Linked DNA regions of Homo sapiens. The protein of the gene in region 5 interacts with the protein of the main gene of each other region in a biochemical or structural test. Each region holds a gene or a part of one and is shown on either strand. Other genes may lie near its edges.

Evidence for each region.
Region 1: the proteins of GRIP2 (region 5) and CD46 interact in a test that uses a peptide from one of them, tested with the Homo sapiens proteins (one large-scale study listed by IntAct).
Region 2: the proteins of GRIP2 (region 5) and CTNNA2 interact in a test that uses a peptide from one of them, tested with the Homo sapiens proteins (one large-scale study listed by IntAct).
Region 3: the proteins of GRIP2 (region 5) and CIB2 interact in a test that uses a peptide from one of them, tested with the Homo sapiens proteins (one large-scale study listed by IntAct).
Region 4: the proteins of GRIP2 (region 5) and FMNL3 interact in a test that uses a peptide from one of them, tested with the Homo sapiens proteins (one large-scale study listed by IntAct).
Region 6: the proteins of GRIP2 (region 5) and SDC4 interact in a test that uses a peptide from one of them, tested with the Homo sapiens proteins (one large-scale study listed by IntAct).
Region 7: the proteins of GRIP2 (region 5) and DUSP5 interact in a test that uses a peptide from one of them, tested with the Homo sapiens proteins (one large-scale study listed by IntAct).

The regions. Positions count from the first base shown.
Region 1 is NC_000001.11:207,758,554-207,762,053, reverse strand, and holds part of CD46 (membrane cofactor protein isoform 3 precursor), read right to left. Parts: intron 2,416-3,500; coding exon 2,330-2,415; intron 806-2,329; coding exon 608-805; intron 1-607. UniProt on the Homo sapiens protein: Acts as a cofactor for complement factor I, a serine protease which protects autologous cells against complement-mediated injury by cleaving C3b and C4b deposited on host tissue.
Region 2 is NC_000002.12:79,876,551-79,880,050, reverse strand, and holds part of CTNNA2 (catenin alpha-2), read right to left. Parts: intron 1-3,500. UniProt on the Homo sapiens protein: May function as a linker between cadherin adhesion receptors and the cytoskeleton to regulate cell-cell adhesion and differentiation in the nervous system. Required for proper regulation of cortical neuronal migration and neurite growth.
Region 3 is NC_000015.10:78,104,106-78,107,445, forward strand, and holds the end of CIB2 (calcium and integrin-binding family member 2), read right to left. Parts: intron 1,830-3,340; coding exon 1,634-1,829; coding exon of another isoform or gene 1,543-1,633; exon of another isoform or gene 1,234-1,542; intron 1,228-1,233; coding exon 1,206-1,227; 3' UTR 501-1,205; downstream 1-500. UniProt on the Homo sapiens protein: Calcium- and integrin-binding protein that plays a role in intracellular calcium homeostasis. Acts as an auxiliary subunit of the sensory mechanoelectrical transduction (MET) channel in hair cells.
Region 4 is NC_000012.12:49,704,606-49,708,741, forward strand, and holds the start of FMNL3 (formin-like protein 3), read right to left. Parts: upstream 2,801-4,136; 5' UTR 2,576-2,800; coding exon 2,450-2,575; intron 1,924-2,449; exon of another isoform or gene 1,545-1,923; coding exon of another isoform or gene 1,503-1,544; intron 1,417-1,502; exon of another isoform or gene 1,263-1,416; coding exon of another isoform or gene 1,080-1,262; intron 1-1,079. UniProt on the Homo sapiens protein: Plays a role in the regulation of cell morphology and cytoskeletal organization. Required in the control of cell shape and migration. Required for developmental angiogenesis.
Region 5 is NC_000003.12:14,512,843-14,516,342, forward strand, and holds part of GRIP2 (glutamate receptor-interacting protein 2), read right to left. Parts: intron 1,637-3,500; coding exon 1,450-1,636; intron 969-1,449; coding exon 823-968; intron 16-822; coding exon 1-15.
Region 6 is NC_000020.11:45,328,107-45,331,424, reverse strand, and holds part of SDC4 (syndecan-4 precursor), read left to right. Parts: intron 1-860; coding exon 861-1,059; intron 1,060-3,318. UniProt on the Homo sapiens protein: Cell surface proteoglycan which regulates exosome biogenesis in concert with SDCBP and PDCD6IP.
Region 7 is NC_000010.11:110,507,907-110,512,033, reverse strand, and holds the end of DUSP5 (dual specificity protein phosphatase 5), read right to left. Parts: intron 2,015-4,127; coding exon 1,608-2,014; 3' UTR 501-1,607; downstream 1-500. UniProt on the Homo sapiens protein: Dual specificity protein phosphatase; active with phosphotyrosine, phosphoserine and phosphothreonine residues. The highest relative activity is toward ERK1.

The DNA.
Region 1 (3,500 bases), on a different chromosome or scaffold from region 5:
AAGTTTGTTAAAAGTTGTCTTATTGTCTAGAATATGGTCTACTTTGGAGAATGTTTCATGTGTACTTGGGGAGTATATACTTTTAAATCACTGTTATTCAGTGATTTCTTTCTTTAAATGGGCAAGTCCCCTACATGGTCTTCATACTTTTGGTCACTCCAGAGTGCCTTAAACATTTGGTCTTTAAAAAAAAAATTTTTTTTATCCAGAGTTTATCATTTTTATTTGTGAGACGATTAGTCTGTCACAGTTTACCACTACCATAGCCAGAACTCTTAGATTTCTTGTAATACAAGATGAAACTTTCTTTAAGCCAGTGTGTATTTTTTTTTTTTGGTTCTTTCAAACAAAAACTTCTAACTCATGCAGGTACACAGTAGTTCACACTGTATAAAATGAAATGCCAAGAACATGTAGGGGTGAGAAATAGGGAACTCTAGCTAGAACTATTTTTTGACTTGAATTGACCTGAATTAAAATAAATTAGAAACCAATTATACAGGAGGAGGAAGCACATACACCTGCTTTGTTTATCTGTAGATGAAACTATTTACAAAATGTTTCCATAGTATTTACAAATGAAGAAGGAAATAAATTGAAACACTACCTTTACACTCTGGAGCAGCACGACTCCACACTGAATTGTCACCACAATAAATCGTGCTCTCTCCAATAAGTGAAAATGGATCTGGTCCAGGTGCAGGATCACAACTATAAGTTACTGCATCAAGATACTCAAATACTTCTACTTCACTAAAGGTGTGTTTTCCATTTTTTATTTTTGGAGGTGGTGTACACAAAACCTCTTAAAAATGAAGAAAAAGAGGAAAGGAAATGTAAAAGATTAAGACAGCATTAGTAAAATTTCTGTGTCTTCAATAAATTTGTCAATATAGGGTTTCTACAAGCTGTTTGTGAATTCAATATGGATTTAAAAGAAGGTTTCTATGAGCAAATATATCATCCCAAATTCAAACCATTAATGTAGTAACTAACTTTCAGAACAAATCTCATTTTCTTAAAGTGTAAATACCTATTGATATGGTTTGGATCTGTGTCCCCACCAAATCGCATGTCAAATTGTAGTCCACAATGTTGGAGGTGGGGCCTGGTGGGAGGGGTCTGAATCATGGGGGTGGATTTCTCATGAATGGTTTAGCACCGTCCCCTTGGTGCTGTTCTCGTGATACTGAGTGCTTGGGAGATCTGGTTATTTAAAAGTGCGCAACACCTCCCGTCCTCCCCACCTTGCTCCTCCTGCTCCTGCCATGTGAGACACCTTGCTCTCCTTCTGTCTTTCCCAATGGTTGTTAAGTTTCCCGAGGCCTACCCAAACCCCCAGCAGATGCCAGCACCATGCTTCCTGTACAGCTTGTAGAAACATGAGCCAATTAAACTTCTTTTCTTTATAAATTACCCAGTCTCAGGTATTTCTTTAGAGCAATACGAAAACGGCCTAATACGCCTGTATTTATTTGGAAGGCCATGCTAAGTTCTGTTCTAGTCATCACAAGAAATGCTGACAATTAATGAGAAAATATGCTTAACTCGGTGCTAGTTAAGAAATCCTTTGCAATTTATAAATATATCCATTTTCTAAATTGGTGATTCACAATACCACCAAAATATTATTGTCTTTTTTCACTCTGATCCTAATAAGAATATAGTGATATTTTTCCAAAGGCTACATATTGTGTGATAACACAACAGGCCAAATACAATCTTGCTTTAAGCCAGATGTTGAAGAGATATGCAAAAAATGTGAACAATGCCACTATTCTCACTAATTTTATTTTGATTTGGAAAATTATTATTTTTCATAAAAATTATGTTACATATGTTAATTTGTATTGCATTTATTCTTACAAATTAATCAGGCCAGGTGGGGTGGCTCACATTTGTAATCCCAGCACTTTGGGAGGCCCACGGGGGCAGACTGCTTGAGCATGGGATTTCAAGACCAGCCTGGGCATCATGGCAAAACCCCGTCTCTTCAAAAATTACAAAAAGCCAGGCATAGTGGCACATGCCTGAAGCCCCAGCTACTGGAGAGGCTGAGGCTGCAATGAGCTGAGATTGTGCCACTGCACCCCAGCCTGGGAAATAGCCTGAGACCGTGTCTTAGGAAAAACAAACAAAACCAAAAAGAATCAATAATTATTTAAAAACCTCTCCGTTTGAATTCCAATATGATAAATACCAATAGATATAACCCACATAAAAGAAACCTCTTTGGGATCTTTGTTAATCTTAAAGTGTAAAGGGTGTAAAGGAGGCAAAAATCTTTGAGGACTACTGGTCTAAATTTAAAAAAAAAGAATTTACTTACTTTCACATATTGGGGGCTTACCGCTCCAAATTGCTACTGATCCTTTAAGTTCACAATATAGAATTTCTTCACCAATTAAGTAATAACTAAATGAGAAAAGAAAGGGTTACTGTTTTGTATAGCAATTAATAAGACACACATAATAATGAAGGAATTTTTTATATGGTTTCTTTTCTACACTACAGTAGTTTGAGGGGGTGGTTTCTTAAACAACATACTATATAACGAAAGTGCTAAATAAATCTGCAATTTAATCAAATAGAGTTTCCCCATTTGAATATATATTGGCCAAGAGCAAAGATGTCTAAATAAATCTGCTGTGCCTTTCCACCCAGCCTCTTTGCTGCCTCCTGCAATCACATTACACATTCATTTCTGTGCCTTTTCTCACACCACTTTGCACAGTAAGGACAAGGACTGTGTAGAGAGAACAGGCCCTAGAGCTGGAATGGATAGATTCAAGTCCCTGCTTCTCAACTTATCTAGTTTCTTGAGCTTGGGTAAGTCACTTAAAGTTCCTTCACTCAGCTTCCTAATTGATTAAAAGGGGATAACAGTACATGGGGTTGTTTAGGGGATTAGATAAGTTAGCATTTGGCACATAGATAGTGCTACATGAGTTTTAGCTTCTATTAATATTATTTAGAACAGAGTGTATTTCTAGGAATAGCTCACTGAGTATAAGAATACTTTCATTAAGTATACCCCTATACTCAATGAAATCTTCCCTGATTTAAATTCACAGGAATCTCTCCTCCTTCTGGACTCTTAGAGTAATTATCATGAATAATTCTACTTATTTGGTATTTCTCATTTAGTATTTTGCTTTTATTGCTCTCAGTATATATTATTTCTCAATAAGGTTAGAACTTCTTTTAGGAAGGTCACTGTCTTAAAGTTTTGGTATCCCTCGGTGTGCCTAGCAAGCAGTATGTGTCAACTGAATATTCCAATATTTCTACTTGACCAAATTTTAAAAACTGTCAGTTGCCTTACATAGTCACAGCTGATTTTTCCTCCAAGACTCACTTACTTTTTCTATATTATGGTGTGTTACTGCTATTGTTTGAATCTGGTTTGTCTCTACCAAAACTCATATTGAAATTTAATTGCCAGTGTAACAGCATTGAGAGGTGGTGGGGCCTTTAAGAAATGACTAGGTCATTAAGAG
Region 2 (3,500 bases), on a different chromosome or scaffold from region 5:
CTTTGATAAAATTCAACATCGCTTCACATTAAAAACTCTCAATAAACTAAGTATTGATGGAACATACCTCAAAATAACAAGAGTTATTCATGACAAACCCACAACCAATATCATATTGAATGGGCAAAAGCAAGAAGCATTCCCTTTGGAAACCAATACATAACAAAACTGCCCTCTCTCACCACTCCTGTTCAATATAGTATTAGAAATTCTGGACAGGGCAATCAGGTAAGATAAAGAAATAAAGCATATTCAAATAGGAAGATAGGAAGTCAAATTTTCTCTGTTTGCAGACAACATGATTGTATATCAAGAAAACCCCATCATGTCAGCCCAGAAACTCCCTAAACTGATAAGCAACTTCAGCAAAGTCTCAGGATACAAAATCAATGTGCAAAAATCACAAGCATTCCTTTACATCAATAACAGACAAGCAGAGAGCCAAATCATGAATGAACTCCCATTCACAATAGCTACAAAGATAATAAAATACCTAGGAATACAGCTAACAAGGATGTGAAGGACCTCTTCAAGGAGAACTACAAACCACTGCTCAAGGAATTAAGAGAGGACACAAAAAAATGGAAAAACATTCCAACCTCATGGATAGGAAGAATCAGCATTGTGAAAATGGCCATACTGCCCAGAGTAATTTATAGAATAAATGCTACTTCCATCAAACTACCATTGACATTCTTCACAGAATTAGAAAAAGAAACTACTTTAAATTTCATATGGAATTAAAGAAGACCCCGTATAGCCAAGACAATCCTAAGCAAAAAGAACAAAGCTAGAGGCATCATGCTACCTGACTTCAAACTAAACTACAAGGCTACAGTAACCAAAACAGCATGGTACTGGTCCCAAAACAGACAGACCAACGGAACAGAAGAGAGACCTCAGAAATAACACCACACATCTACAACCATCTGATCTTTGACAAATCTGACAAAAACAAGCAATGGGGAAATAATCTCCTATTAAATAAATAGTGCTGGAAAACTGGCTAGTCATAGGCAGAAAACTAAAACTGGACCCCTTCCTTACACCTTATGCAAAAACTAACTCAAGATGTATTAAAGACTTAAATGTAAAACCCAAAACCATAAAAACCCTAGAAGAAAACCTAGGCAATACCATTCAGGAAATAGGCATGGGCAAAGACTTCATGATGAAAACACCAAAAGCAATTGCAACAAAAGCCAAAATTGACAAATGGTATCTAACCAAACTAAAGAGCTTCTGCACAGCAAAAGAATCATCAGAGTGAACAGGCAATCTACGGAATGGGAGAAAATTTTTACAATCGACTCATCTGACAAAAGTCTAATATTCAGAATTTACAAGGAACTTAAATTTACAAAAACAAACAACCCCATCCAAAAGTGGAGAAAGGATATGAACAGACACTTCTCAAAAGAAGATGTTTACATGGCCAACAAACATGAAAAAAAGCTCAACATCACTCATCATTAGACAAATGCAAATCAAAACCACAATGAGATACCATCTCAGGCCAGTCAGAATGGCAATTATTAAAAAGTCAAGAATAGATAGATGCTATAGATGCAATTGGTGCTAGCAAGGCTGTGGAGAAACAGGTACGCTTTTACACTGTTGGTGGGAATGTAAATTAGTTCAGCTATTGTGGAAGACAGTATGGCAATTCCTTACAGATCTAGAACCAGAAATACCATTAGACCCAGCAATCCCATTATTGGGTATATACACAAAGGAATATAAGTCTTTCTACCGTAAAGCCACATCCACATGTATGTTTACTGCAGCACTATTTACAATGGCAAAGTTATGGAACCAACCCAAATGCCCACCAATGATAGACTGGATAAAGAAAATGTGCTACATATACACCATGGAATACTATGCAGCCATAAGAAGGAATAATATCATGTCCTTTGCAGGGACGTGGATGAAGCTGGAAGCCATCATCCTCAGCAAACTAACACAGGAACAGAACACCAAACACCACATGTTCTCATTCCTAAGTGGGAGTTGAACAATGAGAACACATGGACACAGGGAGGGGAACAACACACACCAGGGACTGTTGCGGGGTGGGGGCAAGGGAAGGGAACTTAGTGGATGGGTCAATAGGTGCAGCAAATCACCATGGCACATGTAAACCTAGATAACAAACCTGCACATTTTGCACGTGTATCCTGGAACTTAAAGTAAAATTTTTAAAAAATAAATTTTAGGGCAAACTAGCTGTGCTGTCTATGAAAATATATTTTGCATTTTTATGGTTCCTTTTACTTCAGCATTTCAAAGACGTTAAACTTATTTAAATTTTCACTATATGAGAAAGGTATTATACCAAGTATCAGTAAGAGATTTTGCCAGAAAAGTAAACCACAGGAAGTTTGAGTGAGTTTTTCACCCAATGAAATATCAATTTGTTTAATATCTGAGAATAGCATTTAGGACTCATGACAGATGTCCATGAATTCAAAATCAATTTCAAGTTAGCATGCCTAAGAAATTTTTAAAAAAACAGTATTCATCATACAACTATGGAACAGAAATTTATAATTTAGTCATAAAATAAAGAGAAACGGTATATTATTTTAATGAGAAAATTTCAAGTATCATTAACTACTGTCTAGGTTTGCTGATGTCAGAAGTGATGGAAAATCTACAGCAGGTGAATCACATTACAGTCTGTAAATTCAATACTAATTTACTAGCATTACTACTTTTGAGAAAGTGCTGAAATTAAATTGCATTTGTTAAATGACAATTGTTAGGGAACCACATCAAATGGAATTATTGTTTCAAAACTGCAATTCAGACAGCCTCCACATTTTGATTTTTGTTGACCTCCAAGAAGTAAAATGTTGACCATTAGATAACGCTTTATGTAATTCTCATAGCTTGAGAAACAGTATACATTTAATAAGAATATATTACCTCATTAATATACTTAGCTAATATAAAATATAATTTTTTCATTCATATATAATATACTGAGTTAATATTATAAGTAATATAATTAGTTAATATAGAAGTTTAAAGTTAATAAAATATAGTTAGTGACTTATTTACCATATTATACTTTATATTTTAATTTTTCCAACTGTTTCAAATATATCATGTTTTATAAAAAACATGTTTGATGGTTATATTCATGTGTTAAATTTCCAAAGCCTTATTTGTCCAGCATGAGGAGATATCACTTCAGGAAAAACAACAACAACAAAAAAAAAACCTTGAACATTCAACATGTTGACATACTTTGCTAATAGATTTTCCCCACATGACCTCAAGTTTGATTTTTATGAATGAAAGCCTTTTGCACTGTTGCACTGACGCATCGGTTGTTACATTAATTGGGGATAAAAGGTGCTTTTAATGAAAATCGTCTGGAAACAAAAGGCAGCATGGGGAAGCAGCAGTTGTCACACTCTTGGACAGAAGGTGGCAGCAGCTGAAGTTCCTGGACTGTTCACAGGCCTTCTCTCTGTGCTTCATATTTTCAC
Region 3 (3,340 bases), on a different chromosome or scaffold from region 5:
TGTGTGTCACTTCCCTTCCTATCCACATGTCCCCTTCTCTATAAGGGTGGACAGCTGGCTTGCTACCCCACTCCCAACAACCCCCAGGCCTGGGATGCAGAAAACAGGACTGATCATCTCCAGAGAGAACACCATACGTGCCCCTCCTCCCTGCCCTGACCCTGGGCAGAGCGGGCTCAGGTTGCATTTGTGGGAAATCTACTCTTAGTGACCACTTGGCTATGCAGCTTTTCCTGAAATATAGGCCTGTAAGAGTCCCTCCCTCCTTGGGGGTTTAAGGATTGAGACTGAAGCAACTGTCCCTGTGCCTGAGTGGTTAGCACTCCCAAATGTTAACCAGAGATACTGTCAGGGAATTCACGGAAGGTTCGGGGCATGAATGTGTTTTCCTCCCGATGGCACACGCACTGAAATCAAAGTTAGTGCCTAAAGCAGGAGGCACTGCCTAATGCCGAGAGGTGAGACACCAATGGTGGGATTTCAAGGATCAGAAGCAAAGGTACCCTCAAACATTTCCTAACATTAGCATACATGGAGAGCAAAGGGATGCAAAAGTGTTTTACTACCAGGAGTTCACAAATCTGTGGACAGCACACCAGTGAGGATTCCACGGTGTTGGGGAGGCAGGCAGGGTGGTACTCATGACCCAGAGGCAGAGACAGGAGCAAGAGCCCTTGGGCCCACTGCACCCACAGCTTCACATTGTGAAGGAGGCCGGGAGAAGGGGAACAGGCAGGGGTGGGAAGCAGCCCAACCTTGGGTTTTGGAAAAAGATTGCATAGCTCGTTAAAACCCTGACCTCTTTTTTTTTTTTCCGCTCTGTCCTGGGTGACCAGGGTGTCTGCCAGCACTTGGACACGTCAGACCCCACCACCTCCTGTTGGGTTATCTGCTTTTCCCTCTTTGGGGGGGTGGGGAGCATTTCTGGAGTAGGAAAGGACTGGGGCATGGGGCGGGGTGCGGAGGGCCTGGAGAGAGGCCATGGGTCCCGGGGCTGGACCACAGCGGGGCTGTGGGAAGGGTCCTAACCTTCACAGGCCCCCTTCCTGGTTAAGGTTTTTTTTTTGCTGAAAGGGCCACAGGATATATTTGTGGTGTAAACCCCAGAGGCTGCCACTGCTTTCCTGGGGAGCTTGGAGGCCACACCCATGTGACTGCAGGGCAGGATGGTGGACTTCTAGGCCCCTACAGCCTCGGCAGTGTCCTCAGATCCGGATGTGGAAAGTGCTAGAAAGAGAGAAAGGGCAAGAGAGGGTGAGAGGCCCTGGGTCGGGCAGGTAAAGGCTCCTCAGGGAAAAGCACAGCAGGCCCCAGCCCCATGCTGGACAGTGCCTCATTAGGGAACCCTGCATAGTGGATGCAGGTAATCAACACTGGGGGAAGACGGAGGAACAGCGGTGCCCAGGGAGTTCTGCCCCCACTTATCACTGAAGGGGCCCCCAGGTCTTCAACCTTCCCCCTGCAGGGGACAAAGGCCAGTCACACGTCTAGGGCAAGGGTGGCTTGAACGTGACCTCCTGCTTCCTGGCCGCACACCACTGCTCACAAATAGCGAGTGATAGGGGCCTCAGCCCCAACATCCCGGCCTGCCCTGCTCTGCCCTGCCCAAGCCCGGCCCCTGTAGTGGCAGCACCTGAGGAAGTCAGGGGCCTTGGCAATCATGTCCTCGAAGTCAGCAAAGCCCAGCTTGCCGTCACCGTCCAAGTCAGCCTCCTCAATGACCTTGTCGCACACAAGCACCACCTCCTCCTCATCCAGCTCTGACTTAGTGAGCCGGGCCAGCGTCAGCTCCAGGTCCTCCTTGCAGATGAAGTTGTCAGTGTTGAAGTCTGTAGGGCAGGGGTTGGACATGTTCAAGTCCAGGCTGCGTGCACCCAGGGACCCCTACACTATAGCTCTTCCTCCTAGCTGGCCCCACTACCTCCACCAGCTTCTGATGTCCCCAGAGCATCTCCATGCACACTCTTGGGATACTGGATCCCTGCCCCCAAGAGGGCTTACCCACCAGGCATCGCTTAAACACCCACATCCACCACCAACAACAACCCCACAATGACTAAACCACATCCTGAAGCAGGTCAAAAGTCCAAATCTGAGGTTTCCTGAGAACTTCAGGCTTAGGCCAGATAGCCCTTCCTGGCCTTAGCCCACAGTGGACCCAGTGTTCCCTTTAGACTTCTAGAGCTAAGGAAACTAAGGCCCAAAAAGGCCATGCGATTGAATCAAGGTGGGAGAGCCACTCGGAGATGGAGCAGGGATTCTGACTAGGGCCTATGGGACTCTAAGACCCATGTTTTCTAAACTGCACCCCGTTGCCTCAGTGGTGTGTGACCAGAAGACACGGTGGGTCAGGAGACTCAAAATCAAAAGACCCTTAGAGAGGGGCCTGTGCCTGGCCTTTGTGCACACAGAGCAGGGAACATGGTTTGATTCTACCCAGCAAAAGGCACTACCACTGCCCCAAAGCACAGCAAAATGGTTCAGAGGACCGAGCCATGCCTGGCCACATCAAAGTGAACTCTCTCTTCTTACATTTTGAGCCCAACTACCAGATCTGCGCATGTGCTGTTTCTTCTGCCTGGGGTCCCTTCCCAGCAAACTCCTGGTCATCCTTCAAATTTTGGCTCACACATCACCTCCCAGTGGCGGGGCTTTCTAGCGATAAGGGTCCTCTTCCCCGCAAATGAGCTTCTGTTGCCCATTGGCAAACTCTGACATTAATGGTAGTGACAAAGACCCATCATGTGAGCATTATATGCTCTTTCTCATTTAATTTTCAAAACAAAACTATGAGGCAGGCACAATTGAATCTCCACTATACACATGAAGAAACAGAGAGGTGGCCAGGCGCGGTGGTTCACGCCTGTAATCCCAGCACTTTGCGAGTCCGAGGTGGGTGGATCACGAGGCCAGGAGATTGAGACCATCCTGGCTAACACGGTGAAACCCCGTCTCTACTAAAAATACAAAAAAAAAAAAATTAGCCGGGCGTGGTGGTGGACGCCTGTAGTCCCAGCTACTCAGGAGGCTGAAGCAGGAGAATGGCGTGAACCCAGGAGGCGGAGCTTGCAGTGAGCTGAGATCGCACCACTGCACTCCAGCCTCGTTGACAGAGCGAGACTCTATCTCAAAAATAAAAAAAGAAACAGGGAGGTGAAAAGGAGAGGTACCTGCCTGAGGTCACATCCCGGTCATTGTTGGACCCTAGAGCCCAAGCTCTTGGGGTGACTCTGCCCTGTCTATCTCTGCAGAGGCCTGGGCACAACTCTAGGGTATGCGTCAGGGAGTATTCATCTCTGCCCATGGCATGGGACATAGCAAATCTCTGGAAAGATTTGCT
Region 4 (4,136 bases), on a different chromosome or scaffold from region 5:
GAGGCTGAAGCAGGAGAACTGCTTGAACCCGGGAGGCTGAGTTTGCAGTGAGCTGAGATCGTGCTGCCGCACTCCAGCCTGGATGACAGAGCCAAACTCCATCTCAAAAAAAAAAAAAAAAAAAAAAAAAAGAAGCTAATCTATAATCTATATTGAGTACTTACTGGGTGCCAAGCACCTTATATACAGGGGCTCACCTAATTCTCACAATCTCACCAGAACAGGATTACCTCCATTTTACAGATGAGGAAGAAGTCTAGGCTCAGAGAAGTTAAGATACTTGCTAAGCCAGAGTCCTTGATTTTTCTACTACACTATGCTTCTCCTGACTGTTCAGGAAATACCCCTAAGCCTGTACCTGGGTCAAACACCTGACTCAGTCAGTACTGTTCCCAAAGCATGGTAGAAAGGGTACCTTTCAGAACAGTGGACACAGGGACACTTAAGAGCCCCCAGAGAAGAACTCAAATCCCCAAGAAGGGATGATTTCCCTGTATTGGAAAACTGAGGTGAAATCCCGTCTCCTGAGACAACTAACTAGCTCTGGCCTGCCCTGTTCCAACCCTTCATCAGCAGCAGCTCAGGCACACAGAAACAAGACCAAAACAAAAGGCATGAGGAAACAAATCAAAATTTTATACAGAAAGGAAGGCATGCAAGTGGGTGGTCCAGTCCCCCATTTGACCTGGGTTCTCCTGGTGCTCTGGTGTCCTGGTTAACTAGGACATCACGTGCATTTTGTGAATATTAAGCCATTAGTTTGCTAACTAAACGAAATGGTCAACCAAGGGCCAATGAGAACATGATGGATTCTGGTTCTGAGCTCTCACAAAAAATGGCCTGGCAGCTCCCACCTAAGGCAGCCTCCCACCCAATCCACCTCACCCCATCCCTTTCTCCCCAGTTTCTATAGCTAACTTGTGTCAGCTTGCTGGGGATTTTCACACCCCCACCAGAGTGCAGATCCCCTCCCACTCTTTTCCCCAACAGTTGGGCTCTTGTTCTCAAGGCCACTAAGTCCCAGTCTCTCCTCCTCAGCCTGTGAGATGGTCACAGCACATTGGTAATCACTGACTCACCCGATCCCCCGAGGAGGCTGGGGGAAATGCAGAGGGCCACAGGATGTATGGCCCACATCCCTTTGGCCCTTCGCAGAGCTGGCGGGCAGAGAGGTGCCAGCGACACCACTTCCCCTTGGAACACTGTGGACCCTCTTTGAGCCAGCTCTGGTGCCAGTGGGCTGATGTCAGATTCTCTACCATCGGAGAGGCCAAGATCTCTAGACAGCTCCACTGTTGCCAACAGATCTAATCTCCTTATTCCAAGGCAGATGAAATCCAATAAGGCTGCTAAGTCCACAACTTATCCCTCCTGATGGGCAGAGGCAAAGGCAGAGTCGGCCATACCAACAATAACGCCAGAATTATTACTGCTTCTTAGAAAACTCTTTGGGGAAGTGAGAACTATTTCCCCAAATTTCTCAAAGATTAACCCCGGTTTACCAATGTTTTCGCTCTGCAAAACTTCATTTTCAGCGCAAACATATTTTCTGGCTCCTTCCCGGTGATACCAGCTCAGAACCTCTCGCTTCATAGAGCCACTGACATCAATGTCCAATTCCCACACCAAAGAAGAATCCCAAAGTCAGCTCTAAAAACCCATTTATACAGACCGTTTGAAACCCACAGAAAGACTAAAAAGCACAGGCTAAACAACACAAACCAGTCACTATGGCTTAACGTGAAAAGGGGGGGAGGAGGCGGGATGGTTTGTGTATTGTTTCACTTGGAGAAATACCCCAGTGAAATGGTTTATCCACATGTTCAGCCTTTCAGGCAAATCCACTCTAACTTAGCAGGATGCCTGCAGGCCGTTCTGAAAATAAGCAGAATGGCATACTCTTTATTCCACCCCCTTCAGGAGCTGCCAGCCGCCTCCCCATCCCCCTCTCCCCCCAAACATCTGGTCTGGGCTGGGAGTGGGACCCACTCCCTGGGAAGCCTCCATGTTCGCAGGAGAGGCGGTGTCCCCACTCAGGGAAGCCTGCTGAGGAGCGAGCCGGCCGCGCTTCTGAATTCCCCCCACCCGCGAGAGGCTCCGGGCTGAGAATGCTAGGGACGGGGAGCCTGGCGAAGAAGCGGGGAAACGGGAAAAGGGCAGCAGAAGGGGGAGGAAGAAGGAGGGAGAAGCCTGGTTCCTAGGACGGTCCCGAACTGGGGACTTCTCCTAAGGGTCCAGCGGTGGAGGCGTCGGTCCCGAGATCCCCGACGGGGCTGTCCGGGCCGGCCAGCGGCTGCTCAGAGGTTCCTGGGAAGACACTGGAGGCCGGGATCCGTTCGGGACCCCGACTGAAAGGGTGGGCGGGACGGGGGCCCAGCACAAAGTCCCAGCCCGGGCGTCGGGACCTGAGGGGCGGTACGCGGGGGAAGGGGCTGGGCTCAGCTCTCACCAGCACCAGGGCGAACCTTTCCTCCAGCTCACAGGGCTCAGGCATCGGCATCTTGCCGGGCGGCAGCAACAACGGGACAGAGGGGGGCTCTCCCGGGACCCCCTCGGCGCTCTCCAGGTTGCCCATCGCGGCGGGGCCCCCTCAGGGGCCTCGGCCCCCCACCTCCACGCTCCGGAGCTTTCGGCTCCGCGGCTCCGACCAGGCTCCTCCCTCAGCGCCGGCTCCCCGAGTCCCGACTCCTCGGCCCCGTCGAGGGCGCCGGGGGTTCCCTGGAGTCCCGCTGGCGGGGGCGCGCGGCGAGGGCGGAGGCAGCGTAGCGGACAGCCGCACCGAAGCAAGGCGGACGGAGGCGGCCGGCTCTTGCTCACACCCGCCGCCTCGCCGCGCTCGGCGCGCCGCCCGGGCGCTGCCCCTCCCCGCCCCCCGCGCTCTTTCCCTTCCCCCGCCAACCTCGCTTCCTCCCACCCACACCCGGCCGAGACTCGGGCTTCCCCCGCGAGCGCCGACTGCAGCCCGCGCGACGCGCGCCCCATTCATGCAGGCCCCGCCTCCCGCCCAGAGGCCTCACAGGCGGCCCGGCCCGCCCCACCTGCGCCCGATTGACGGCCGCGTCTGCCAATCACAGCGCCTCCCGCCCTTGACGGCCTCGTGCCGGGCGCCGAGCGCTCCCTGGCGGCCTCAGCCGGCATCGAATCACCGCGGTTCCCAGAGGGCGTGAGGGGCTGGCGTGGACACACCGGGAATGGACCGTACCCTTTTTCAAAAGGAACTCATGATGTATACAAGTAAGTAAAATATTATACAAGGCATGGCGTACAAAACTAACTACAAGAGAAGTAGAAACAAGCAGGATACTCAGAAGAGGGAGAGAGATAGTACCTGTTAAGAGTCGGGGTGAGGGAGATCATAGTTGGACCAGGCATTGAGGGATGAGGAAGCCCTTACCCGACAGAGGCAGGGGAAAAAACGTTTGGGAGGAGAGAAGCTTAACCATCTGGCTGCGTGTGAAAATGGAGAGGCGGGAGAAGAACGCTGTTCTGGGCTCAGTCGGCGGCTGGGTCGTTGACATTTGCGGTGGAAATTTGTTGTCTAGCCGCCATCTTCTTCCAGTGAGAGCACCCCCTTTTCTTTTAGGAAACCACCTCTCCCCTCTTCTCAGTCTAAATGGAGCTGAATTTTATCCCCAGTTCCAAAGGACCGCATGACCCAGGCCCAGTCAGTCACAACATTTTCCTCCTCTACCCATGGACACTGTTTTAGGGATTGTCACTTGACCCAAGCCCAGACAATATGATATATCCAAGGCTTTCTCTGAAACAATCAGGAAAGAGGCACTCACTCTCTCTCCATTTAGGCTGCAAAATTATTAGAATGTAAACCTGCAGCCGCTGGTGGCCGTCTTATCATCACCTGTAACACATCAAGCCTGCTTGAGAATGAAGCCAGCGCAGAGGAGAGAAAAGCTATGAGACAGGACAAAATTCTAATGACATGCCAAGAACCTGGATCTAACCATGCCTGAAGTTATCACCTAGATTTTTAATTCATTTATTCAACAAATATTTATTTTAGAAAGTTTATTCTATGCCAGATACTATTCTGGGCATTGAAGGTACATCTGCGAACAAACAGGATATACATTGTGTCCTCTTGGAATTCACAATCTGTGTAGAAGGAAAGGTAGACA
Region 5 (3,500 bases):
TTGGGATGACGGACTCTGGGGGTAGATGGACATAAACCGACGTGAGGACCCAGAGGAGGAGCCTCAGCGAACCCCAGCCCCATGCCCATTCTGGCTGTGCTGGGAGTGACCCCGAAAGTCACAGTTCTAATCTCATCCCCCTGCTTCCTCTCAACAGAGGAGGAAACTGAGGCAGAGTGAGCTGACAGATTTGCTCAAAACAACTGACCTGCTCTAGTCAGACCAGAGTCGGGGCTGGAACCAGGCCTCTTGGCTGTCGGCTAGTGTGGCGGGCGGGAAGGGAGCTCCCCACAGCCTAACAACCCAGTGTGAATCTAGCACATATTTCCTGAGCACCTACTATGTGCCAGGCCGTGGCTGGGTATTTTCATGTTTTCATTTCTCTTGGGCATATGCCTCACCTAACCCAAGTACCGCCCCTATAGTGAAAAGATCGTTATCAACTATTTACGGATGGGGAAACAGTGGAGGGAGTGTCCTGTCCAAAGCCACACTGTGTTGAGGTCACAGAAGCAGAATTCTGACCCAAACTGTTGTTCGAGGTTCTTTGCCTAACCCATGCTGAGAAGGAGCTTGGAGTATTTTCAGCTCCCCAACCCCATCCCCACTTGGTCCTGCCCCTCTGCAAAAGTCTCCTGGTGTGGAAACTTCTCCCTCCCGTGCCAAGGCTTCCCTTCCCACTATAAGCTGCAAAGCCCCTGGGAGAAGGGCACTGGGCACAGAGGGGGATGGGGTGGAGCGTTTGCACAGGCGAGGCAGGATAAAGAGAGGAGGGGTGCAGGGCCCTGAAATATGAGGAGGAAGCTTGGGCCACTCACTCACCCGCCACATCGAACTCCACCTCCAGCACGACCTTGTGGGCCAGTGCGGCGTCCCGCAGGAGCTGGTTGGCTTCCTCCATAGTCCCGTCCTCGGTGGCAATGCCATTGATGGACAGGACACGGTCCCCCACCTGCAGCAGCCCACACCTGAACCCAGGGGGCCCGGCAGAGAGAAGAGGCTCCGTGACAGGTCCATTGGGAGACAAGAACGCCATGCAGGGCAGGACTGAACCTGGGTCACACCTCCTGGTCTGGGGTGACTCTCAGCTCTGCCCTGGCCCACCTGTGTATCCTCAGGAATCTGGCTAAGGGCTGGACCTTGCTGGACCTCAGTTTCCCTGTCTGTCCAATGGGGATGATGGCATGGGCCTTACAAGTTGTGTATACAGAGGACTCTGCCTTCAGGCAGACAGGGGTTCAAGCCCTGGGATTCCATGGGTGAGCTGTGTAATCCTGGGCAAGTGAGTCAGCTTCTCTGAGCCTCGGTTTCCTCATCTGTAAAATGGGGCTGGTGCTGGGGCTGATGCAATGGTTAAGTGAGATGCGCTTGTGAAGCTAGGGCTTGGTGCTGTGACTCAGTTTCTCTCAGAGAGTGGCAGGCTCAGTAGGGAGGGGGCAGGAGGCTCACCTCTCAGCCGGACTGTCAGGCTCGATGAAGCACACGAGGGGTGGGGAGGACAGGGTCTCGGTGGCGAAGATGCCGCCCTGGAGCTGGAGGCCAAAGCCGCTGAGGGGGTCTCCACAGAGCACGACCTCCGTGGTCTCCGTGTGCACAATCTGCCCGCCCGGCCCCACCGTGCTGGAGGCTAGCGACACTGTAGGACAGGTGGGCCCAGCATTCAGGTGAGCCGCCCCACGGAGGTCTTCCTGCCAGGGCCTGCCCATCCCGGGGCCCTAGGCACTGGAGCCAGAGTGCAAGGAAGTGGGAGCCCTGACTCAGTCTGGGACCAGACAGATCACAGCTCACTCTGAGCCTTGGCTTCCTCATCTGAACAATGGGATCGTTGATTCCCACCTCGTGGGGTGTGGCAAGGACTAGGGAAGACAGTGGCTGGGATTGACTGTCATGCTGTAAAGCAGGTTCTGGGGGGCAGTGTCATTTTATTGTATTATTGTGCTGTGATCTACTGTAGTATCTACTATATTATGTCACTCTGCTTTTCGGTAAGAGGTTTATTGAGATATAATTTACATACCACAGTAGTCACCTATTTAATGTGTACAATTCAGTGGTTTTTAGTGTATTCACAATTATGCAAACATCACCACGATGCATTTGAGAACATTTCATCACCTCCAGAAGAAACCCTGTTCCCTTCAGCCATCCCCAAAGATCTTCCTATGTCCCTCAGCCCTAGGCAACCGCGAATCTACTTTCATCTCTGCATTTGCCTGTTCTGGGCACTTTATATAAACAGAATCATGCACCATGTGGCCTTTGTGACAGGCTGCTTTCACTTGGCATAATGTTTTCAAGTTCATCCACATTTTGCAGGTGTCAGAATTGCATTCCTTTTTGTGGCTGAATAATATTCCATTGTATGGATACACCACATTTTGTTTATCTATTCATCCATTGGTGGATACTGCGTTCCTTCCACTATTTGGCTACAGTGAATAATGCTACTATGAACATTTGTGTATAAGTTTTTAGGTGGAGATGACACATGTTTTCACTTCTCTTGGGCATATACCTAGGAGTGGAATTGCTGGGTGATATGGCAACTCTATGTTTAACTATTTGATACATAAGGTTATTTAATAAATATTGTTTTACATTCCATATATGAAATATATTTGCATCATTAATATGAATCCTGAAAGTCATTTATTATTTATCAAACAAAATTTATTTGGTATTTCATTACTAATTATATTATTGTGTCATATTATATTATTAAATTATATTGTATATTATACATTACAAAATGTGTAATATGTTATGTTTTTAGGTATATTGTGTTTTTATATGTATTTATTTATTTATTTTGAGACAAAGTCTCACTGTGTCGCCCAGGGTGGAGTGCAGAAGCGCCACCTCGGCTCACTGCAACCTCCGCCTCCCGGGTTCAAGCGATTTTCCCACCTCCAGAGTAGCTAGGATTACAGGCGTGTGCCACCATACAAGGCTAATTTGTTGTATTTTTGGTAGAGATGGAGTTTCGCCATGTTGGTCAGGCTGGTCTCGAACTCCTGGCCTCAAGTGATCTGCCCACCTCGGCCTCCCAAAGTGTGGGGATTACAGGCGTGAGCCACCATGCCTGGCCTATTTGTTTCTTTTCACTACTATGTCCCCATAGTATGTACATTCAGTACTATGCCCCATAATTAATTAATTATAATTAATTAATAAATTACTATCAACAGCAATAATGATAGTACTTTCTTAGTTACACATCCCAGGAAGGAGACAGGCAGAGGAGTCGCAAGAGCCTCCAGTCTCCACATCCCCCACCTACGAACAGCATTTCTGCATCTTTTCATCTACATATTCCCCACTTTGGTGGCCAGGAAAGGTGGTTAGTAGAGATATATTTTCTCTCTCATCTGACTGAAATCTGTTTCCCATTTCCCTTTGGCTGCCAGGGAGTGTAGAACCATATTTAGCTTTTTTCAGACACCAGGTGACCTGTACTCCTCTCTTCTTTCACCTGGTTCTATCTCAAATGGCCCAGTTTG
Region 6 (3,318 bases), on a different chromosome or scaffold from region 5:
TTTCCCCCTCCCTTTTGTAAGAAAACCCTTAATCCTAAGGGTTGCAGAGGGACAAAGATCCATCTTCTATAACTTCTTCATGCTGAATAGGGTGATGATATTCCTGCTTAACTATTAGGGCCTCTTGTATCCATGGTAGAGAGGGGTTCAGTCAGAAAGGGCCAGTATGGTGAGGGCCATTCATAACTCTTAGTTCTGACAAAAGGTGATATCCAAAGTCCTCCAATCAGTGCTGCAGTCCATTTCCTTTGATTCGGGAGTCTCCTCCGTCTCATCCCTTCTGTGGTTCTCCAGAAAGATGTTACCAGAAAGGGGTCCCGATCCAGACCCCAAGGGAGAGGGTTCTTGGATCTTGCACAAGGTAGAATTCAGGGTGAGTCCATAGAGTAAAGTGAAAGCAAGTTTATTAAGACAGTAAAGGAATAAAAGAATGGCTACTTCATAGGCAGAGGAGCTGCAGCAAGCATCTTTTACACGTAGTCTCTGAAGAGCTCCTTACAATAGAGTTTCCAGGGCAAAACTGCCACCTTAAAGGGCAAGCGATGTCTAAGGTTTTGCCAAATTGCTTCCAGAGTGGTTGCTCTAGAATAACCAGTGGCCAGCAGTGCAGGAGAGCACCTGCTTCCCTGTTCCCTTGGGTGCATTCATTTTTCATTTGGGACAGATATACTAAAAAAGTTGGGGATAAGGATTTTGGCAGCATAATTGTGGAGACAGTGTTGCCAATTCCTGCTCCAGGACCATATGGTTCAGCTGAATATGGCAGAACCAGATTCTCTGCCTGGCTGAATGTCCCTGTCCCCTGCCCTGAGTCTCTTCCAAAATACGCTGAGTGTCTCTTCTCCTTTCCGCCCATCCAGGTGCCTCTAGATAACCATATCCCTGAGAGGGCAGGGTCTGGGAGCCAAGTCCCCACCGAACCCAAGAAACTAGAGGAGAATGAGGTTATCCCCAAGAGAATCTCACCCGTTGAAGAGAGTGAGGATGTGTCCAACAAGGTGTCAATGTCCAGCACTGTGCAGGGCAGCAACATCTTTGAGAGAACGGAGGTCCTGGCAGGTAAGTCCCCATGCTGCTTATAAGATGCCTTGAAGGTGGAATGGGGCTCAGCGGGGGAGAGCACCTGCAGGCAGGGATGCCTCCAGCCATGAGGCTCCTTGGTGCCCCTTCCTTTTGCCTATTCAGGTTGCCCTAGAACATTGAAAGACTACACCTTCCTTATGGGGTGGCTCTGACTGTGCAGCCTGGTGGAGGGAGAGGAAAAAGCACCTATCAAAGTCTTCTGGAAAATAGGCATTGAGTCATTCTTCTGCCTTAAGTCTTTCTCATTTATTTTGCAAAGGACTTTCACTGTATAAGTTTGGCATCTGGGAGTTAATCATTAAAAGTTAATTTCCCTTGTAAGTCTGGAGGCTCCTTCGAATTGGGTTAGCTTCCCCTCCCCCTACTCTATCACTTGGCAGCCTTGTGACCTTGGCTGAGAAGCTTTCGAACTTGATGAGCCTCAGTTTCCTTATCTGTAAAATGGGTACAGTGATACCTTCTGGGGTTGATATAATGAGTCCATGAAAAATAAAATATGAAATAACTTTGCACACTATAAAGGGCTATTCCGATTTGGCCTCAGTTGAGAGTTCTTTACTGGAATGTGCGGTGAGGAATGCTTTGTCCCAGGTGTTGACAAAAGGGATGGAGGGAACTCCCCAAGGTCATGGCCGAGGGCCAGCCTGGATGAACCGGCCTGGCAAGTGGGCACCCTGGGCCCATGCTGGGTAACTCCTGTCTCCTGGGAATCAACAGAGCCAGCAGCTCCAAGGAGGCTTGAGCTATAGGGACAGAGCCTGGCTTCATCCAGGACAGATGGAAGGTCTCACCTGCCTCTTGTAAAGAGGGTTCCTGGGAGCACAGCCCCTGATGACTGGGCCCACCTCAGCCCTGACCCTGGCTTCCTGGTATCTGAGCCAAAGTTCTTTTTACTTTTCTTTCAGAAGTAAAAAGATTTGCATAAGACTTTGGATTTGCATAAGGTTTTGCTCTAATTAACTAAAGGTGCTATTGCTTCTAAAGAAAAATTTGAAAACCACTGATTAATCTAAGCACCTGCTTCTTATACATGGGGAGACTGAGGCCCAGGCTTTAGGCCACATAGTAAGAAAAGAACTGAAGCCAGGTTATCTCTTTAATCTTCCATTTGAGAATTATACAAGCCTAAGAGCCTCATGTGAAAAGTTATATTGTTAGCTGGTGTGGTGGAATCCCCCATTCCAGAAGCTTTAATCAGCACCCAGGAGCCTTATTAAATGCTTGCTGTATGCTGTATGATTCCTGTGCCCCTGATTGAGTCCGTACAACACAAAACTCAGTCTAAAGAACTTATCCGAAGTCACAAAGCTGGAAGTGGCAGACCTGGCATTTGGACTGAGGACCACAGTCAGCTTCTGAGCCTGTGCTTGAAACTTGACCCTGTGGGGCATCCCAGCGCAGACCCAGGGCCTCGTGGAGGAACTGGGGTCATCAGAGGGAAAGGTGATAGAGACAAGAATGGGGTTGATGCCTGATATTCCATGTGCTTGCTCTGGCACCTCCTGGGGGTACTTTTTTGTTGCTTTTTCATAGGATTTTACCCAAGAAAGAACCTTGCTTGACTCCTCTGTGCCACTCTGTCCCCATTGTGTACATAGATTTGTAGTGTGTGCAGGGATGGAAAATTAATCTTCTTAGCCCGAGTAAGACCGAATTAGGGAACTCAATCTGCCACAGAAGGGATTCTATGAAGCATCCCTGCCCCTAGCAAACAGGAATGAGTCATTCAGGCCACCTGGCAGAGTGGACAGGCCAGACCCACTCACTGTTAGAAGCCCATCTCTGCCCAACACTAGGCAGGTTCTCCTCTCGGAGCCTGAAAGTATCATTTATTAAGCACCTCCTGTTGTGCACACCTGATTCAGGGGGTTCGGGACACAGATATAAACCTTAAACCCTTACAGTTAATGAATCTTGAGAATATGCTATGCACTAGGCATTGTTCTAAGCACTTTGAGTGGATTAATTTATTTAATCCTTAGGACAAATGTATGAGAAAGGTATGGCTCTTCCCATTTTGCGGTAGGGAGATGAAGGAAACTTGCCCCAAATCACACAGCCAGGAAGTAGGAGAGGTAGGAGTGGAAACCAGGCCTTAGCTACTGAGTTCTGTATGTAATTGTAACATAAGAGTTTGGAATTAGTATGTTCTGCATGTGTGCACTTTGAATGTACATACCTGTCTATGAAGTGTAGGCTATATAGGTAAATATGCACACAGGGAGAGCTAGAGAG
Region 7 (4,127 bases), on a different chromosome or scaffold from region 5:
CTGGCAGGGCAAACTTTCACCTCATTCACTTCTCCATCCCTTGGCCACTTACCCAGCCTTTTCTGAGTCTGCCATATGCCAGGCACTGGAGGGAGGTAGCTGGCCACAAGCTTGGCACTCAGGCTTACTGGAACCAAGGGCCTTATGCTTTAAGGGACTCTTGGGATCATCTAACTCAGCTCACTCTTCACAGGTGAGGAATCTGAGGTTCAAGTAGAGCTCTTTGCCTAGTGCGATGGCAGTGAAGGGCCCTGAGTGGGCAGATACTCTCACCACCTCCCTATGAGGCCTGCACTAAGGAATTCTCTTGCCGGTTAGCTTAGGGAAACCCCTCAGTTGGAAAGCAACATTCTGTATCGTCATGCCTATAGCTGCACCTCCACCACCATCACCCTGTTGTTCATTTACAAATAAATCCCAATGAAGCAGGCTGGGTCCCCACCCAAGGGTATTCCTACCTTATCCCAATTCACCAACAACATGAAGAAGTGCTTTTCTCCTTTTACTATTTTTATTTTACACTATAAAAAACAAGAACAACAACAACAACCAGTAACATACTGCTTTTCTTCACATTCACACGGGTCTTAGAAAATTATTGCCTTTTCCCCTGGAGAAATAACTAACAGACAAAAAGAAAAAAAAAGTAGTACCACGTTGCAAAATCTGCAAATCCCAGAAGTCCACAGCTTGAAGACAACCTCCAGGGGCAGGGAGGAAAACAATTGTCACAAGAGACATAAGCACACAGAAGGACAGGCAGCTGAGGAAACCAGTTTGCACCGCCACTGACCCAGGATACCTAGCAAGTACCCTTCTCCTCCTGGAATCTACTGCTACCACCTCGAAGGTATGACTTTTTTGGTCTATGATCTGAAGAACTCTTTTCCCAAAGGAAGAGTTGCTCTGAGAAGAGGTGGAATGAGACAAGTTCAAGTATGACTAAGAATCATGCCAAAGTCCAAGGTCAGTGAAGAACCCATGGCAAAAAAAATCCAGAAAAGCCAACATCTTGCTACTTCAACCAACTACCTCATTGGACCCAAGAGGGTGTCTACACAACATTTCAGGGTTCAAATCAGGATGCTGATCATGTCCCTACAAACCCTGTAGGGTTACTTTCCCAACTAGACGGTGATCAGCTTATGCCCCGAAGCAACAGAGACAGACATTGAAACTGCCAAAGTTCAAAAAATAAGGTGGAAATTGTGCTTCCTTCAAAATGAATTGGCTTCATAACTGCCTTTTCTCCTGGTCCAGCAACTTCTTTCTCCCACGTTGCTGCAGGTATTTATTGCCTTATGCTTGAAATGAAAAGGCGAACTCTGAGGTGCAAGGACTGGGCAGTCCCAAGAGGGCAGGGGTCTGGAAGTACAGTAGTCAGCACATGCTGTGCTCCCGTAATGGCTTGGCCTTCCTTCAGTCCCGAGAACCTACCCTGAGGTCCGTCTGAAGTTCATTTGCAAGCCTGGTGACCACTCACTATCTCACTGGGGCAGCATGACAGAATGAGGTCTTCAGTATTGCACAGGTATGAAATGTCCATGAGTCTTAAAAACAAAAATCACAGTTGCTCTTGGGGCTGGGCCGATTCCTCCATCCCAGTTTTAGCAGGATGTGGCCGTTGCCACAGGGCTTCTGCTGAGCTCTGAGACTGTTGAGTGGGTAGGCACCGGTGCCAGCACCGAGGCAGGGAATGTGCAGTAGGCACCCTGCATGTCAGGGCTCAGTGTCTGCAAATGGCCTATCAGTGAAGAGCCTGCTGCCTCCCCTTGGCAGGAGGGAGGCTGGGGGTTGGGCGTGGAGGGCAGGATCTCAGATTCGTACTGCAGGAGCTGGCCCATGAAGCCAAAGTTGGGCGAGACCATGCTCCTCCTCTGCTTGATGTAATCGAAGGCCTCCTTCAGGCGGAACTGCTTGGTCTTCATAAGGTAAGCCATGCAGATGGTGGGTGAACGGGAGATCCCAGCCTCACAGTGGACCAGGACCTTGCCTCCCTTTTCCCTGACACAGTCTGGAAGGAAGAAAAGATGGTGGGAGTGAGTTGGGATTAGAATCTAAGGGCAATGGCAAAACACAAGAATCAAACACTGGAGTAACCTAGATATGAAACTGTTGTGCCTGCCTAAGAGCCACGGCCCTACACTACACTTCTGCCAGTCTTTAATCCCCACTGGTGAGGATAGAGCTTTTGGGGTCCCAGCAAAGACTATCCCCAAGTAGGACCTTTACAGTTTACAGCAGCTATTGTCACAAGAGACATAAGCACACAGAAGCTTTACAGTTCCCAAGATACTTGCAGATTCTGCCTCTGGAGGCGATGGACCTGGAGCAGTCCCTTCCTGGGGATGCCATCTTAACCTAGGTTCCACTGATGGTTCCAAGAGGGCATTGGAAAATCCTTGAAATTGTGCACATTTTTATTGGGCACATACATTTTTCTAAGGAGAGCATCCCAGGCTCAAAGACTGACTTGGAGAAGCAACTCTTGTCTCTCCAGGTCTGATTCTAAGGGTAACAACCTAACCCCGATCCTGGTAGAGGCCTTCCGGTCTCTCCGGGCACCCTGTCTGGCTGTGCCAGGGCAGGATGCTTGGCTCAGCTCCCAGGGTTCTCACCACCAAACACACAATAAATAGCGCATGGCCACTAATTATAGCCCTGGCTAAGTGACGCCTACTAGACGGAGGATATAAATGGCTTTCACAAATTCCATCTTGCTCAACAATGGGAGTCGCTGCTATAAAGCTACCACCATCAGTTAGCATTCTTTAGCTCAATATGACAAAAAGGGGAGGATGCCTCCCTTCCTGTTCTACCTCCCAGCCCCCTGCCCCCAGAAAACCAGCTACAACTATTAAAAATGGGAAGGGGTGAAAGGTTAAAGATACGTACACATCAAATCCACAAAAAATACAGTCTTTCCAATTCCCTCTCTTGCTAGTGAGGAAACAATTACATCACAGGAAGTTAGATGTAGCTGGCACTACGCAGGCTACAATACGCAAAAACATTTACGATTTTGAAGGGCCAAAAGAAAAAGTCATTCCCCTTACCACCCTCCACTTCCCTGCCCCAAGGTCAAAGTATGCAAATCAATCTGCAAGATCTAAAAGATAAAATTTCTGAGGCATCAGGGAGGAATCCTAGAGTTTCCCCATCTGAACAAAAACCCCACAGCATACCCCAAAGCAGTTCAATAGGGGTGTCCTCCAATTCAGTCTGACTCAAAAGAAACAACAAAACAGTCTCTTTAAATTAGTTCAAAGGGGAGACCCCCAAGTCCCTAGAATTACAGAGTCGGGCTCCTATCTCCCTTCGCTCCTCTGTTGGCCTCCTTCAAAGTTTAGCTTTTAACTGGCCTAGTGCCACATCCAAGAATGCAAAGGGTCCAGAGTGTATTGCCTCTGGAGCCCACTCGACACCTCGGAGCCTGCCTTCCACATGGCCCTCTTCCCTTGGAAGGGGTCAGCATATATTCAGCACATGGCTCACTGGGGAGACCCAGTCTCTCCTTCCATTAGCAGGGCAAGCAATCGGAGAAAAAGCATCCTGTGCTTTCAAACTGCTGTGGGTTTGTGGATTGTGCGTACACAGACACAATACACACACAGGATGGGGAGGGAGGGTTCTGAGAACTGGATGGGGGCGTGTTTCATGACCTCATGAAGTAGCTACCCAGGTAATTAAATAACAGGCTGAGAAGGGCAAGGCATTCCCAGGGACAGGGAGAACAAGTCAAGGGTTTCCCACCCTGAACCCATCATTTGGCTGCCTTTCAAGCTCCAAAGGAATCATTTCAGCCCAGAGGCTCAGGGGACAAGCAGGACAGGCTCGGCCTTTTGCCTCTGATGAGTTTCTCGTCAGGGTTTCCTGGGGAGCAGAAATTGTGTGGTGAACAGAGGGCCACTATGTGGCTCAAGGGGGACCTTTAATTGCTATCTGCACTAAGTAATTATTGCTGTGCTAACACCTGCCTTTCCTCCTCCAACATCCCTTGGAACAAGAGACAGGAAAATCACGCGTCAGTTTCAACAACTACGTATGTTAAAGAGGAAGATGGGAGCTGGAAAACGGGGCATGATCACAAGGTTAGAGACTGGTACTTGCAAATCTGAAACAGAAAA